Linked DNA regions of Homo sapiens: region 1 is linked to region 2. The links come from fine-mapping of genetic effects on gene expression. A gene starts in region 2. The other region holds a variant in brackets. All regions are shown on one strand. Distances are from middle to middle.

Evidence for each region. PIP is the estimated chance that this variant, and not a neighbour inherited with it, causes the effect.
Region 1: its variant is fine-mapped to the expression of ANO7 in cerebral cortex (GTEx, PIP above 0.99). The same link has a PIP of 0.9 or more in anterior cingulate cortex, cerebellar hemisphere, left ventricle and nucleus accumbens.

The regions. Positions count from the first base shown.
Region 1 is chr2:241,215,898-241,218,786 of GRCh38, forward strand. It overlaps ANO7 (anoctamin 7), which reads left to right. Exons shown (of 25, transcript NM_001370694.2): 19 at 196-341; 20 at 1,789-1,994; 21 at 2,342-2,484. Among named protein-coding and RNA genes, the nearest start is that of ANO7, 29 kb to the left of the region's middle. RefSeq lists an enhancer at 401-932 and a silencer at 1,567-1,696. The variant C/T (reference allele first, on the strand shown) is at 1,775.
Region 2 is chr2:241,187,575-241,190,463 of GRCh38, forward strand. ANO7 (anoctamin 7) reads left to right here and starts at 1,103. Exons shown (of 25, transcript NM_001370694.2): 1 at 1,103-1,192; 2 at 2,483-2,597. The coding sequence starts at 2,490. LOC105373971 (a long non-coding RNA gene) reads right to left here and starts at 848. Exons shown (of 3, transcript XR_924064.3): 1 at 702-848. RefSeq lists enhancers at 373-1,057, 1,058-1,741, 2,675-2,889.

The DNA.
Region 1 (2,889 bases), 28 kb after region 2:
CGCTTTCACTGAGTCCGATCTGCAAAGCTGTTGGCTCTCACTGCGTCCACCCCTCAGCCCCAGACCCCATCCCTCCCTGCTGCCCTTCAATTGCAAAGCAACAGGCTTGTCCCGGCCACATCTCCCCCAAGGACTATAGCAGCCACTGAGACCCATGTTGGATCAAAGGCCATTTTCCTGTATTCCCGTCCCCAGGAAGCTAAAGGGCTGGTGGCAGAAGTTCCGGCTTCGCTCCAAGAAGAGGAAGGCGGGAGCTTCTGCAGGGGCTAGCCAGGGGCCCTGGGAGGACGACTATGAGCTTGTGCCCTGTGAGGGTCTGTTTGACGAGTACCTGGAAATGGGTAGGAGCCCGTTAGCAGCTGCGGCAATGGCTGGCGCCGTGGGCAGGGATGGGTGGCCACTCTGCTCAAGGGCCTCCCAGCCTGACATTCCTGTGTCTGCATCTGCCCTGAAATGTGCTGTGGGGGTGGGGTGGGAACAGAGGGTCGGGCCTGTGGAGAATCCAGAAAGGAATTCTTTTCCCCTGAGAGTGCCCAAGAGGGTTGGCTGAGGACAGAGGGGCACCGGCACGGGGAGGAGGCCCCCGCGGCCGTTGCAGAGCTCCCCTGGGGTCCCTGGACCTAGAAAGCATGGGCCAGAGCAAGGGAAGAATTAGGAGAGCAGGCCCTGGGGGCTGACAGAAGTCCTCCAAGGGTGAAGCCACAGTGGGAGGCAGCGGCCTGGAGAGCCAATGTTCCCAGAAATCTCAATGCCCACGCTATTTGCAGACCTACCACTGTCACCTTACCAGGTGGTGGCCAGTGCCAGGGGCTCACTGCCTGCACGGGTGGTGCACTCTGGAGGGTGGGTCTGTATCACCTGTGCCGTCCCTGCAGTGCAGGGTCTGACTCTGAGCTGACAAAAGGGAGAAGGAATCATCAGGCAGTTTGTTTGTTTGTTTTTGTTTTGTTTTTTGAGACGGAGTCTCCCTCTGTCGCCCAGGCTGGAGTGCAGTGGCGCCATCTCGGCTCACTCCAACCTCCACCTCCCAGGTTCAAGCAATTCTCCTGCCTCAGCCTCCCGAGTAGCTGGGATTACAGGCGCCCACCACCACGCCCGGCTAATTTTGTATTTTTAGTAGAGGCGGAGTTTCACCGTGTTGGCCAGGCTGGTCTCGAACTCCTGACCTCAGGTGATCCACCTGCCTCAGCCTCCCAAAGTGCTGGGGATTACAGGCGTGAGAAACTGTGCCCGGCAGGCAGCTCTTAACCTAGCAAGCGGGCATGTGAGCCGGCAGGCCCCGGAGCTCCCCAGCGTAGCCGCGGCATCTGTGGAAAGGGAGCAGGCCAGTTCCCAGGGCGAGGAGTGGACGCCCTGACCCTCCTCCACTGAACCCTGGACCCCAATGATCTCACTAGTAATTCTCGGCGAAGACCCAGAAGCCCCTTCCAAAGAGCCCTCTCCTAACAGCTCCCCTGTGGGGTGACTGGAGAAGCTGGTTGTAAAATCAGGAGCAGGTTTCTGCCCCAACGCCTGCCCTGAGTTAGTTCCTGAGCTCACCGAGCCGGAGAAGGCCCGTGACCAGCCAGAAGCACGGAGCGCAGGGCAGGACAGCCGGCCTGAGGCCGGTCAGGAGAGGCGGCCCTGGCGCTGCGCGGTCCAGGACGAGGGAGACCAGGAGGTGGGGGCGGAATGAGCCGCGATGGGGTGGCGGCACCACGTGGACTGGCCGGTCCTCCGCGGGGGGCGCGTTCCGAGGGCTGAGGGCGGACGGTGGCGGAGAGCCCGGCCGTGA[C/T]CCCCTCCCCGCAGTGCTGCAGTTCGGCTTCGTCACCATCTTCGTGGCCGCCTGTCCGCTCGCGCCGCTCTTCGCCCTGCTCAACAACTGGGTGGAGATCCGCTTGGACGCGCGCAAGTTCGTCTGCGAGTACCGGCGCCCGGTGGCCGAGCGCGCCCAGGACATCGGCATCTGGTTCCACATCCTGGCGGGCCTCACGCACCTGGCGGTCATCAGCAACGTGAGGCCCGGGCGGGAGCGCGGGGCGGGGCGGGGGCGCGCAGGGGCGGGGGCGGGGGGGGCAGCGGGGGCGCGCAGGGGCGGGCCGGGGGCAGCGGGGGCGCGCAGGGGCGGGGCTGGGGGCATCGGGGGCTCGTAGGGGCGGGGCGGGGGGGCGGCGGGGGCGGGCAGGGGCGGGGGGCAGCGGGGGCGCGCAGGGGCGGGGCGGGGGGGGCAGCGGGGGCGCGCAGGGGCGGAGCGGGGGCGCGCAGGGGCGGGGCGGGGGGGCAGCGGGGGCGCGCAGGGGCGGAGCGGGGGCGCGCAGGGGCGGAGCGGGGGCCGCCTCGCGCTGACCCCTCCGGCGCCCAGGCCTTCCTCCTGGCCTTCTCGTCCGACTTCCTGCCGCGCGCCTACTACCGGTGGACCCGCGCCCACGACCTGCGCGGCTTCCTCAACTTCACGCTGGCGCGAGCCCCGTCCTCCTTCGCCGCCGCGCACAACCGCACGTGCAGGTGAGCCCCGCGCCAGGTGGAGGGGGCCGCGGGCGCACGAGGACGAGGCGGAGCGGGGCTCGGGTGGGGTGGGGGTGCGGCGGTGGGGAGCCGGGAGGGGCGGGCGCCGCCGGGCAAGGCCGGGGGAGGGGGGGAGCTGGGGGCGCCGTGGGCAGGGGCTGGGGGGAGGTTCCCCGCGGTAAGGGACGGAGCTTTGCGGGGCTGGAGGGCAAATCGTGGATTCTAGGTGAATTGCTAGTTGGTCATAGTGTAGCAGGACGAGTCGCAGACAGAACTCCTCAGACACCGGATTAAAGAAGGAAGAGGTTTTTTTATTCGGCCGGGGGCGTCGGCAGACTCGTGTCTTCAGAGCGGAGCTCGCCGAAAAAGAAATTCTTAGCCCTTTGAAGGGCTTACAACTCTAAG
Region 2 (2,889 bases):
GGAGGGCGAGGAGCACGGGTGGTAGGTTCTCAGACACTGCCAGGCACCAAGGAGGAAAGGGGGAGGGGGAGGGAGAGGGGAAGAGGAGGGGCGGGGAGAAAGGATAGGAGGAGAAGGAGGAGGAGAGGGAGAAGTGGGGGGAGGGGGAGAAACAGGAGGAGGGGAGTGGGGAGAAAGGAGGAGAAGGAAGAGGAGAGGGAGAAGTGGGGGGGAGGGGGAGAAACGATAGGAGGAGGGGGAGTGGGGAGAAAGAGGAGGAGGAGGAGGAGTTGGGGGGAGAAATGATAGGAGGAGAGGGAGAGGGGAGAACGGATAGGAGGAGAAGGAGAGGGAGGAGTAGGGGGGAGAAACAATAGGAGGAGAAGGAGGAGAGGGAAGGTGGGGAGAAAGGATAGGAGGAGGGGGAGAAAGGAGGAGGGGGAGGAGGGCTAGGAGGAGAAAGAGGAGGGCTAGGAGGAGAATGAGGACGAGGAGGAGGGCGGAAAGGATGGGAGGAAGGCTAGGACCCCTCCTGTCCTTTTGCAGATGGGGCCCTGAGCATGGGATGTGCCTGAGGTCACCCCTCAGGCATTAGCAGAGCCAGCAGTGTGATCTGGGTCTCCCAATCTCCCCAGCCCCCGGGTGAAACCCTGGCCCACCACTCAGCACATGCTACGTAACCTCAAGGAGCCTCAGTTTCCCCCCACATAAACAGAGCTTACGAGGTCTGCCTGGCAAGGCTTCCAGCAGAGGTGGCACTTGTGGCTGTTCCTGTGGAATCCCACCTCCTCGAGACCCTCCAAGGCAGCAACTATGACAGCTGATGCCAGCCCTGAAATCTCTAAGCAAATAAGGTTCCCAGGAGGACGGCAGCATTTGCATGCGGGTGTGTGAAAGCCCAGCCAAGTGGGCTGCCTCTGTCTGCAGCTCTGAGCCCCACACCCCCTATTTAAACAAAGATAGATCCTGCTCCAGGAGCCGGGAAGCCTTGCCCTGGCCAGCTGTGCTGGGCACCTCCCCTGCCTGCTTCCTGGCCCACTTGCAGGCAAGGTGAGGGCATGCGAATGGCTGCCACTGCCTGGGCGGGGCTCCAAGGGCCACCCCTCCCCACCCTCTGTCCCGCAGTGAGGACGGGACTCTACTGCCGAGACCAGGCTCACGCTGAGAGGTGGGCCATGACCTCCGAGACCTCTTCCGGAAGCCACTGTGCCAGGTGGGGACCCAGCCTAGACGTGTGGGCCACAGGGAGAAGGTGGAGCGTTGGACTCTAGGGAGGCAGGGCGGCACCCCAGCCCACCGGGACTTTCACACACCCTGGCCTGTGGGGAGGCAGTGCCAGGGCCCGCCCTGGTCCCCAAAGCCCCTTGGGGCACGAGGAGGGACACACACTCAGTGCGGCTCTGGACGGGGTACACCCAGCTGGGGTTGGCTTCCTGCCTGCCCAGGGGCTCCCCCATGGAGCAGGTCCCTTCGTTGGGGTGGGGGGCATCCCCATTCTTTCTGCAGAGAGCTCTGAGGAGGGGCCCGCCTGCCCACCACAGAAGGATGGGGGCATGAGGGGCTGCTGGGTGGCCGAAACTCCTCGGGGACTTTCCTCCAGGAACACCCCACAGTCCGTAGTGAGGCTCCCAGCCTGGGGCCGGGGCCGAGTCCTAACACTGAGACCTGGCTCGGGCTTCAGGGTTAGGCAGGTGCAGGCGGCCCAGGCTCAGTCTCTGTCCCTCTGGGCCTCCGCTAATGTGAAGTGAAGGGTAGAACTAGAAGGCTGCCCCTCCGACCTCCTGCGGCGCCTCCATGGTCACACCCTCCGGTCATCGTCGCAGCTCCAAATGCCAGCCCCAGCTCGAACCCTCTCCTTCCAGGGCCACAGATGTCGTGCTCCTGGCCCCGTTTTGCCAGCCCAAGACTAGGAGCCACGGCACCTGTCCTCCCACAGAGAGAGACCCCCGGGGCGAAGGTGCGGGAGGAAGCTGGGACCCCCAAGAGTTGTGAGGCCGGGCTCCATCAGGCCCGCCTTGCTGGGGAGCTCAGGGCCTATGGGTCCTGGCACTGGGTCCTCAGGCCATGAGCGAAGGCAGGCGACTTGAGGGGTTTCCTGTCCCTGGCTCACATGGCTCCACCCTACGGATAAGAGAGGGAGAGGTGTCTGTACTCCAGGCCCACCTTTCTGGGCCTTCTCAGGCTCCACTGAGTACCCAGGCAGAGTGGACGGCATTCAGGGCTGGGGGACACGGGCACTCACTGGATGGACAGACAGACGCCTGCTGTGCCAGGCCTGCCAGACGCTCCCGCCCCGGCACTGGTTTCTTCCTGGAGCTCGTGGCTGGCTAGGGGGTTCTCCATGTGCTCATGGCCAGGAGAGTCTGCCGAGCCAGCCCAGCCCCATTCTACTCCGAGTCGAGTCTGTAAAGTGAGCTCACTGCAGGCAGTGTGGTGGCCCCAGGAACGGGTCTCACCCATCCCCTCTCTGACCCCCATCCCCACCCGGCCTTGCTGGGTGCAGGAGCAGGATGCTGCGGCGACGGGCCCAGGAAGAGGACAGCACCGTCCTGATCGATGTGAGCCCCCCTGAGGCAGAGAAGAGGGGCTCTTACGGGAGCACAGCCCACGCCTCGGAGGTAACAGCACCCAGGAGACTGTGGTGCGACTTGAGAGGTCCTCCCCTGCCTGGGTCTATGCCCCCACCCTGGGCCCAGAGCCTCTGGGGGTGGATGGGCATCACCGTGTTTCTCCTGCATCCCCCGGCAACCCCCAAGCCCTCGCCACCCAGTCCTCAACACACACAGTCAGATCACCGCTCTCCTGGCCTGGCCTGGCTGTGGAGAACCGAGCAGAACCCACTGATGTTCAGACAGGAGCTCCAGGAGGGTAAGGGGGGCCTGGCCAGGCAAAGGCAAGACCAGGGCGGGG